Homo sapiens: one gene and its partner. The protein of the gene in region 2 purifies or fractionates together with the protein of the main gene of each other region. This does not show direct contact. Each region holds a gene or a part of one and is shown on either strand. Other genes may lie near its edges.

Region 1 (3,829 bases), on a different chromosome or scaffold from region 2:
CGCCTGACTAATTTTGTATTTTTAGTAGAGACGGGGTATCTCCATGTTGGTCAGGCTGGTCTCCAACTCCTGATCTCAGGTGATCTGCATGCCTCGGCCTCCCAAAGTGCTGGGATTACAGGCGTGAGCCACCGCGCCCGGCCTAAAAAATGCTTTTTAAACTGACAATCCTATGTGATCTGACACAGAAAGATAATATTTTGCAATAGAGGTTGATCCAAAAAGTCAGGGATGTGTTCCCTGGAATGCTCTGGAGTAAAGTCCAGAGCCTAGGTCACCTTGGTCCACTCTTAGAACCAGTCCTGCCCCACTATCAACCTTCAGGCTCGATAGCCCCACTCCCCACAGCTCCTGCCAACCCTCCCCAGTCAGGTCTGTCCTGTCCCTACTCTCACCAGGACCTGCCTTCAGAAGGCCTCCCCCACCCCCACCAGGTCTTGCCCCCTCAGCCTCCCCTTTCCTCTCCCCCCATTAATCGATCAACCCATGGGCACCAAGAACTTGACCCTATAAGGAGTCCAGTAGACGGGGAAGGGAGCTAGGAGGTTGAAATTGTTCAAAGCTAAGCTCCAGAGAACAACAAATAAGAATGAACCAATGCATTTGAGACATGTCATCTGTAAAATGGATATTACAAAATATAATGGATATAACAGTGCTTTGTCATCTGTAAAGTGCCCTACAAGCACAAGGGACTTGAATTTTTATGAGGATGGTGATAACTTAAAAGTGGGACCTGAGAGCCAATCAATAATTTTACAAATTGATTTTTTAATGACAAAAGCGGTACGTATTCATTTTAAAGGATATATAAATAAATAAAACATATAAATAAACAAAAACAGAAAAATTCTCATAGTCTTCTTAGAGTGTCATACCTTCTATTATTTATATAGTATATTCCCTGTCCATCCCATGAGACCTGTTTCTGTGGGAGAACTATGGTTCCCTTGATGACAAATTTTGCCATGTGACTTACTCTGGACGGTTTTGTGTAAATGGATATAGCATGCGCCCCCTCTGAGCAGAAGCTTTAAAAGCCTCTGTGTGGTTCTGCCATCTTTTTCCCCTTCTGTCATGGGACCAGCATGTCTCAGGTAAGGGCTTTCCATCTTCCTGGCCCCTGGAATGAAGAGCCCCGTGAAGAACACATAGTGGGTAAGAGGAACATTTATTGTAAGCCCCTGAGACGTGAGGGTTGTTTGCTGCTGCAGCAGAATTTGCCTTAAGATACCTGATAACCCAAAGAGATAACAACCATTAATATTTTGACCTACATCCTTTCATCTTCTTTCTATGACTTTATTCTGTGTATGTTTTCTTTATAAAAATAAGGTCACAATGTACATATGATTTGTGACGTGCTTTTCTCATTTTATCTGCAAATATTTCACTTATAGCTCTAAAAAATAAGGATTCTTCTTCAACATAAACATGAAACCATTATGGCACCTAAAATGAATCATAATTGTTTCATTAGCACCAAATATTAGTCATTGTAAACATTTCTCCAACTTTAAAAAATATATATTGTTTAAATCAGGAATCCAAATAAGATCCATACTTTGCAATTGGTCAATGTGTCTTAAATCTCTGTTTATCTTTAGGTTCTCCCTCTCCTTCTCTCTCTCTTTTATCCCCTTGTAATGTATTTGTTGAAGAAACTGAACAAGTTGTTCAGTAGAGTTTTCCACAATCTGGATTTTGCTGATCATGTTCCCATGACGTCTTTAGCAGGTTCCTCTTTCCCTGTATTTCCTGTAAATTGCTGAGTAAATGTAGAGGCTTAATCAGATCCAATGAACAGATTTTAAAACTCAATACATTATGAACATTTTCTATTTCATTTAATATTTTCTACAACATGTGTTTTAAGTATCTACAGAGCTATCGACTGTATGAATGAATTATATGTATTTAGCTAGTCCCGTAAGTGTCTCATTGTTTTAAGTCGACTGTATGAATGAATTATATGTATTTAGCTCCTCCCGTAAGTATCTCATTGTTTTGTCGACTGTATGAATGAATTATATGTATTTAGCTCGTCCAGTAAGTATCTCATTGTTTTAAGTCTACTGTATGAATGAATTATATGTATTTAGCTCATCCTGTACTGTTGGACATTTAGGTTGTTTCCAATTTTTGGCTAATACACATAACTCACTGATAAACCTCCTTGTGGACTCACCATTTTCTGGCCTCCTTTCCACCCTTTCTATTTCATCAGTTCCTGCGGATGGTGGATGCCTGTGCCAGCTTCCTCACTGAAGCCTTGAACCCAGAAAACTGCGTTGGAATACTGAGGCTGGCTGACACACACTCGCTGGACAGTCTAAAGAAGCAGGTTCAGAGTTACATCATTCAAAACTTTGTGCAGATTCTGAACTCTGAGGAGTTTCTTGACCTGCCCGTGGACACTCTGCACCACATCTTGAAGAGTGATGACCTTTACGTGACCGAGGAGGCTCAGGTGTTTGAGACCGTGATGAGCTGGGTCCGGCACAAGCCATCAGAACGACTCTGCTTACTCCCCTATGTCCTCGAGAACGTGCGCTTACCGCTTCTGGACCCGTGGTACTTTGTGGAGACGGTGGAAGCAGATCCTCTCATCAGGCAGTGCCCAGAGGTCTTCCCGCTGCTCCAGGAAGCCAGGATGTACCACCTTTCTGGCAATGAGGTGAGTAGAAGATAAGAGGTGCTATATTTAACCAGCGAAGTAAGGAGTTAGCTAGGGGCTCACAGAGATGCAAGCAAAGCGGATTCAAAAATCCTTAGGGCATTAAGGAGAAAACACTGCCCTGTTCATTGCTGAGTCGGTCAGTTCCAGAAGCCCTGATTCCTGATCTATGAGGCCGATCCCACGTGTTCAGACAGTTACTGAGCGCGTTAGGTGAGATGTAGAAATCACCCAGCACCATGCCTGGCCCGTGCTTCCTCTTCCCAGTTGTGGAAGGGTGGGAGGTTGGGGGTCACACTGCACGCACAAACAAGAATGTGCCCTGGGCCGGGCCTGGTGGCTCACACCTGTAATCCCAGCAGTTTGGGAGGCCCAGGGCGGGTGGATCACGAGGTCAAGAGATCCAGACCATCCTGGCCAACATGGTGAAACCCTGTCTCTACTTAAAAATACAAAAAAATTAGGTGGGCATGGTGGCATGCACCTGTAGTCTCAGCTACTCGGGAGGCTGAGGCAGGAAGATCACTTGAACCCGGGAGGCAGAGGTTGTAGTGAGCCGAGATCACGCCACTGCACTCCAGCCTGGGCAACAGAGGGAGACTCTGTCTCAAAAAGCAAAGCAAAACAAAACAAACAAAAAACAAAAAAAACAAGAACGTGCCCTGTCTAGTCACTATTCCATGGGGGTGCTGCTCTTCCTTGCCCACTCTGGTGAAATCTTGTGTCTCTTGTATATACTCTGACATCACTTTGATTTAGACTCTCACCATCTGAATTTCTGGAAATTTCTCAAAACTCATCTTCCTCCCCCAAGTCTGGCCTCCCTCCAATTTATTCACCAGCTGAAAGATCTGAAACTCAAGTCTGATCATCTTGCTCCTGGGCTTGCCTTCTTCATTGGCTCCCCATCACTTTCAGAATAAAGCCCATACTTCCTGCCTACGTTCCCAGAGCCTGGTCTTGCATCATTAATCTCCTGCCTGCTTCTCTAGTGTCCTCTCCAACCTCCCACTTCTGCTCTAGTCCTAATGCACAGCTTGTGGTTCCCCAAAGTGGATGTGCTTTTTCTGCCTCCAGGTCAATCTGAATGTTGTTCAAATGCTTTTCTCTTCTTCATCTAGCTGACTTCTACTCCTACTTCAAAACTCAGTC
Region 2 (3,829 bases):
CAAAAGGGCATCTTTTTTTGATGGTAGGGACTTGAATTTCTGTAGCCCACGCATCTACCATAGTGCAAAATACATAAAAACACAATTATGTTTTCTAAGGAGTGAATGACTATTCTTGAGCAATCCTCCAGGCAGCCACCATTGCCCTTGCTGACTTGCCCTCTTGACCAGACACACCGTTCCTCTTCCCATGGAGTGAGGAAGGATCTGAAGGCTTGGAAAAGCCACAGAGTATTAGATTGACCTTCCTCATGCTCTTCTCTGCTCTCGGCAGGACCCAAACCCTTCCTGAAGTGATGAGAAATTACAGCTTTCCGCTCTGTCCTTTGGTTAGATACACTGCCCTTTATGCCTCACTGGTCTTGGGGGAATGGCAGTAGCAGGGCAGCTAGTTCAGTCTCACCCATACTTTGGGAATTTGTATGTTTATGTAATGGTCCACTCATTTAGATGAGGAAAAACCTGCTTCTGGCTTCGCTTTTCATTAATTATTAAGCAGTCTAGTACAATAGACCATCTATTAATTACAGAGTTATTTTATTGTTCTGGAAGATAGGTAGAATAAGTTCATTTTCAGTGGCAAACTGCCATAAATTCATAATGTGATTAAATGAAAATACATAGAAATCATAATGTACTCTTACTGTCATTTTTTCCCAATTTAACTGTGAAAGCAAGGCTACAATTTTGCTGATCAATTATATTGCATATGAAGACTTCTATACCTATCATTCAGAAATTAGAACTATTTTCTCATACATACTAAGTAATTTGCATTTGTTTCCACTTTTAAACACATTAACCACTTTTATTTAGCAATGAGTGTCATGTTGGTCACCTGACAAATGTGTTTCCTAGCTTGTAGACAACTGAAAATCAACCTTTGAATCCCACACTTTCACAGAAGGAATGTGTTCTTGCTGTTAGTTTCTGAGTATGTTCTCTTTCCTATTTGCATTTAGACGACAGATTCTGGAAGATATTTTCTACAAGCCATAAAGTGGGGGTCGTGGCCATAGAGACATTTTGAGTATTATCTGTAGGGAGTTCCTTTGACATATGCAAAATGTATAAAGGATACAACTCTATAAGCCTGAAGATACCTTTTACTAACCAAATTGTTGATTACTGAAGGTAGCTTCAATCCCATTTACTTTGTATAATGAAGATAATACTGCATAGTGTATAAATTTCCCCATTCTGGGATGATATGTGCTATAAAAATGAAAGATTGACAAAGCTATTGTTATTTAAAATAGCAAAGTATAAATACAATGCATAAAAATCAGTGGAAGGAACAATATAAGAGTTGCTGAACCAAATCAAATTAATAGTCCATCTAATTTGATTCTTGTTTTCAGCACTGACCGATACTTAATGCATTGAAAATTAAACAAAATTTATGCACCTACTCAATTGTGCATTGCTCCTTCTGGAAGGAAAATTCTTTCTGCTCCATGCAGGTGATTAACTTATACCCTGAAGCATGAGATTTTATTATCTTTAAATCACGATCTGGGTTTACAGAGCTGCAAATTTTACGTTAACAGTCATACAATGATCCATCCCATTTGCAAATTCAGACTCAATATTTGTCTCCATAGCTCACCATGGCATGGTATCTGTAAGTTTGCCTCATTCTATAAAAAGAAACTGTTTTTTTCAAATCCACTTTCCTTTAATTGAACTAAGCATTGTGCTTCTTTACTACTGACTATGGAAACAGAGAACTTTCTTGACTTAATTCAATATTGTCCTGTTCTGTACGTTAAAAAAAAAAAAGGTTTCCATTTGTCCTTTATAAATTTTAGCACTTCATGAACTATTCCTTAAGGTAGAAACAAAATCTTATATTTGATGTTATGACCTTAAAATCATGAATCTGATTGCCTTTATTTAATAAACCAGAACATAGTTATCCAAATGCCATATCCTTCCAGGTTGGCAATCCTGAGAAGTTGTACACTTATTTCAATAATGCTGCCTTTATTTGGGATATTTGGGAGCTTCCCTACTGGAATTCTCTTCAGAGCCTGTGAGACACTGTTTTACATATCCTCAGACAACTCTTTGTCTTTTGATGGTGAATTTGATTTTTGGAAACAGCTAATAGTCACTTGAAGCCAAGTCTGCGGGTTATATCTGGGTGATGTTTGGGGAAAAGAATGAGGTGTGAAAACAATGTAACAAGATTGATTTTCTAATGTGGCTCATAAACTTTTCCTGACTACAGTTCTAAAAGAGGAGTTTCAAAAATTTTTTGAACTCTGGGAGCAATAATAAAATGAGTTTGCAGCCTCCCAAGGTGACTACTTTGAATGCAACACTCATTTTGGGAATATAAATTCTGGTCTATGTGGTAAAATGAAACTAGTTCCATTGCTCTATAGTTATACATTGTTTTCAGCATAATAATTTAGATCCATGTCTAGGAATTCCCGAGTCTATGGAAAAACTATATTTCCTTAAGCTTTATTTGACAGTCCAACCCCATATGACCTTCAATAGCGTGTAAAATTGCTTAAGATGGGAAGGCCAAGCCTCCATAATAGCATATATCCTTGGACCTCTTTGCAGGGTTCATAAAGATCATTTCAATTAAGAAAACTATAGATGAATGCATTTTTGTTTATATCTAGATCATATCTTTATAAAGAAATGCATCTATGATGCAAAATTTTCCTTTTTAATGTCACTTTTAAAATTTCCTTATATCAAAGTAGCCTTTGATATAAAGACAAATTGAAAATATCATCCAGCTAAATTTTCAATGATATGCAAATCTTTCCCCCCTCCTTTCTATACCTACTAATACTAAAAATAAAATTAATAATAATACTCATAGCTTATATTTATTAAGTGCTTCCTATGTTCAGGATGCTGAGTCATGCTGTTTATTTTTTAAATTTTTGAATTTTAAAAATTTTAATTGTATTGTGATAAGAACACTTAACATGAGATCTACCATCTTCACAAATTTTCAAGTGTACAATCCAGTATTGTTGACTCTAGGTCCAATGTTGTACAGCAGATCTCCAGAGCTAATTCATCTGGTTTGAGGAATGCTTTCTGCCTGTTGATTATTGACTCCCTATTTCCCCCTCTCCCAGCCCTGGCAACCACCGTGCCACTCTTTGAGTCTATGAAATTGACTATTCTAGATACCTCCTATAAGTGGAATCATGCAGTACATGTCTTTCTGTGACTGACTTATTTAATTTAGCATAATGTCCTCAAGTGAACCATGTAATTTGTATAGATTTGCTTATTTTATCCTCATGGAAACCCTAAGATGTAGGTCCTATTATCTTCTCTGTTTAACATTTGAGTAAATGGAGACTTAGAACATACAAGGAACTGCATGAAGATATGCAGTTAGGAAGTGGGAAACCTGGGATTCGAATCCAGATCCACCCGCCCCAGAGACTACAGACTCCTCAGTCTGAGGACTCTCCCAGTATGATAGAGGTGGCACTTTTTAGATGTCCTAGAACAGGCTTCCTGTGATTCCATATGAAAGTGCAGAGGTTGAAGTTGCCTTAGAGGCCTCCAATCCTTATTTATAACATTTGCTTCTGCTTTTAAGTTTCTCTATGGAAAGAAGTTGTTTAACAATTCAAGAGTTTAGCAATGTCCCCTGTTCAGATTAAATTAATCTAATTTGAAATGGAACCTATTTTCTTATTCTGTAGTCAGAGAAAATTAAGCATGAATAATCACCACCCTATGTCTAATGCCAATGTGGACTTAAACACCTTTGAGTCTTTGTTTTCTGGGTTTCATAATCTTGAATCCTCTCTTTTTCTGCTACTACCTTCTAACTTTCGGC

Evidence for each region.
Region 1: the proteins of TOX (region 2) and KLHL6 purify together in Homo sapiens (affinity purification with western blotting; one study listed by BioGRID). This does not show direct contact.

What each region holds. Positions count from the first base shown.
Region 1 is NC_000003.12:183,506,907-183,510,735, reverse strand, and holds part of KLHL6 (kelch-like protein 6), read left to right. Parts: intron 1-2,227; coding exon 2,228-2,677; intron 2,678-3,829. UniProt on the Homo sapiens protein: Involved in B-lymphocyte antigen receptor signaling and germinal center formation.
Region 2 is NC_000008.11:58,818,508-58,822,336, forward strand, and holds part of TOX (thymocyte selection-associated high mobility group box protein TOX), read right to left. Parts: intron 1-3,829. UniProt on the Homo sapiens protein: Transcriptional regulator with a major role in neural stem cell commitment and corticogenesis as well as in lymphoid cell development and lymphoid tissue organogenesis.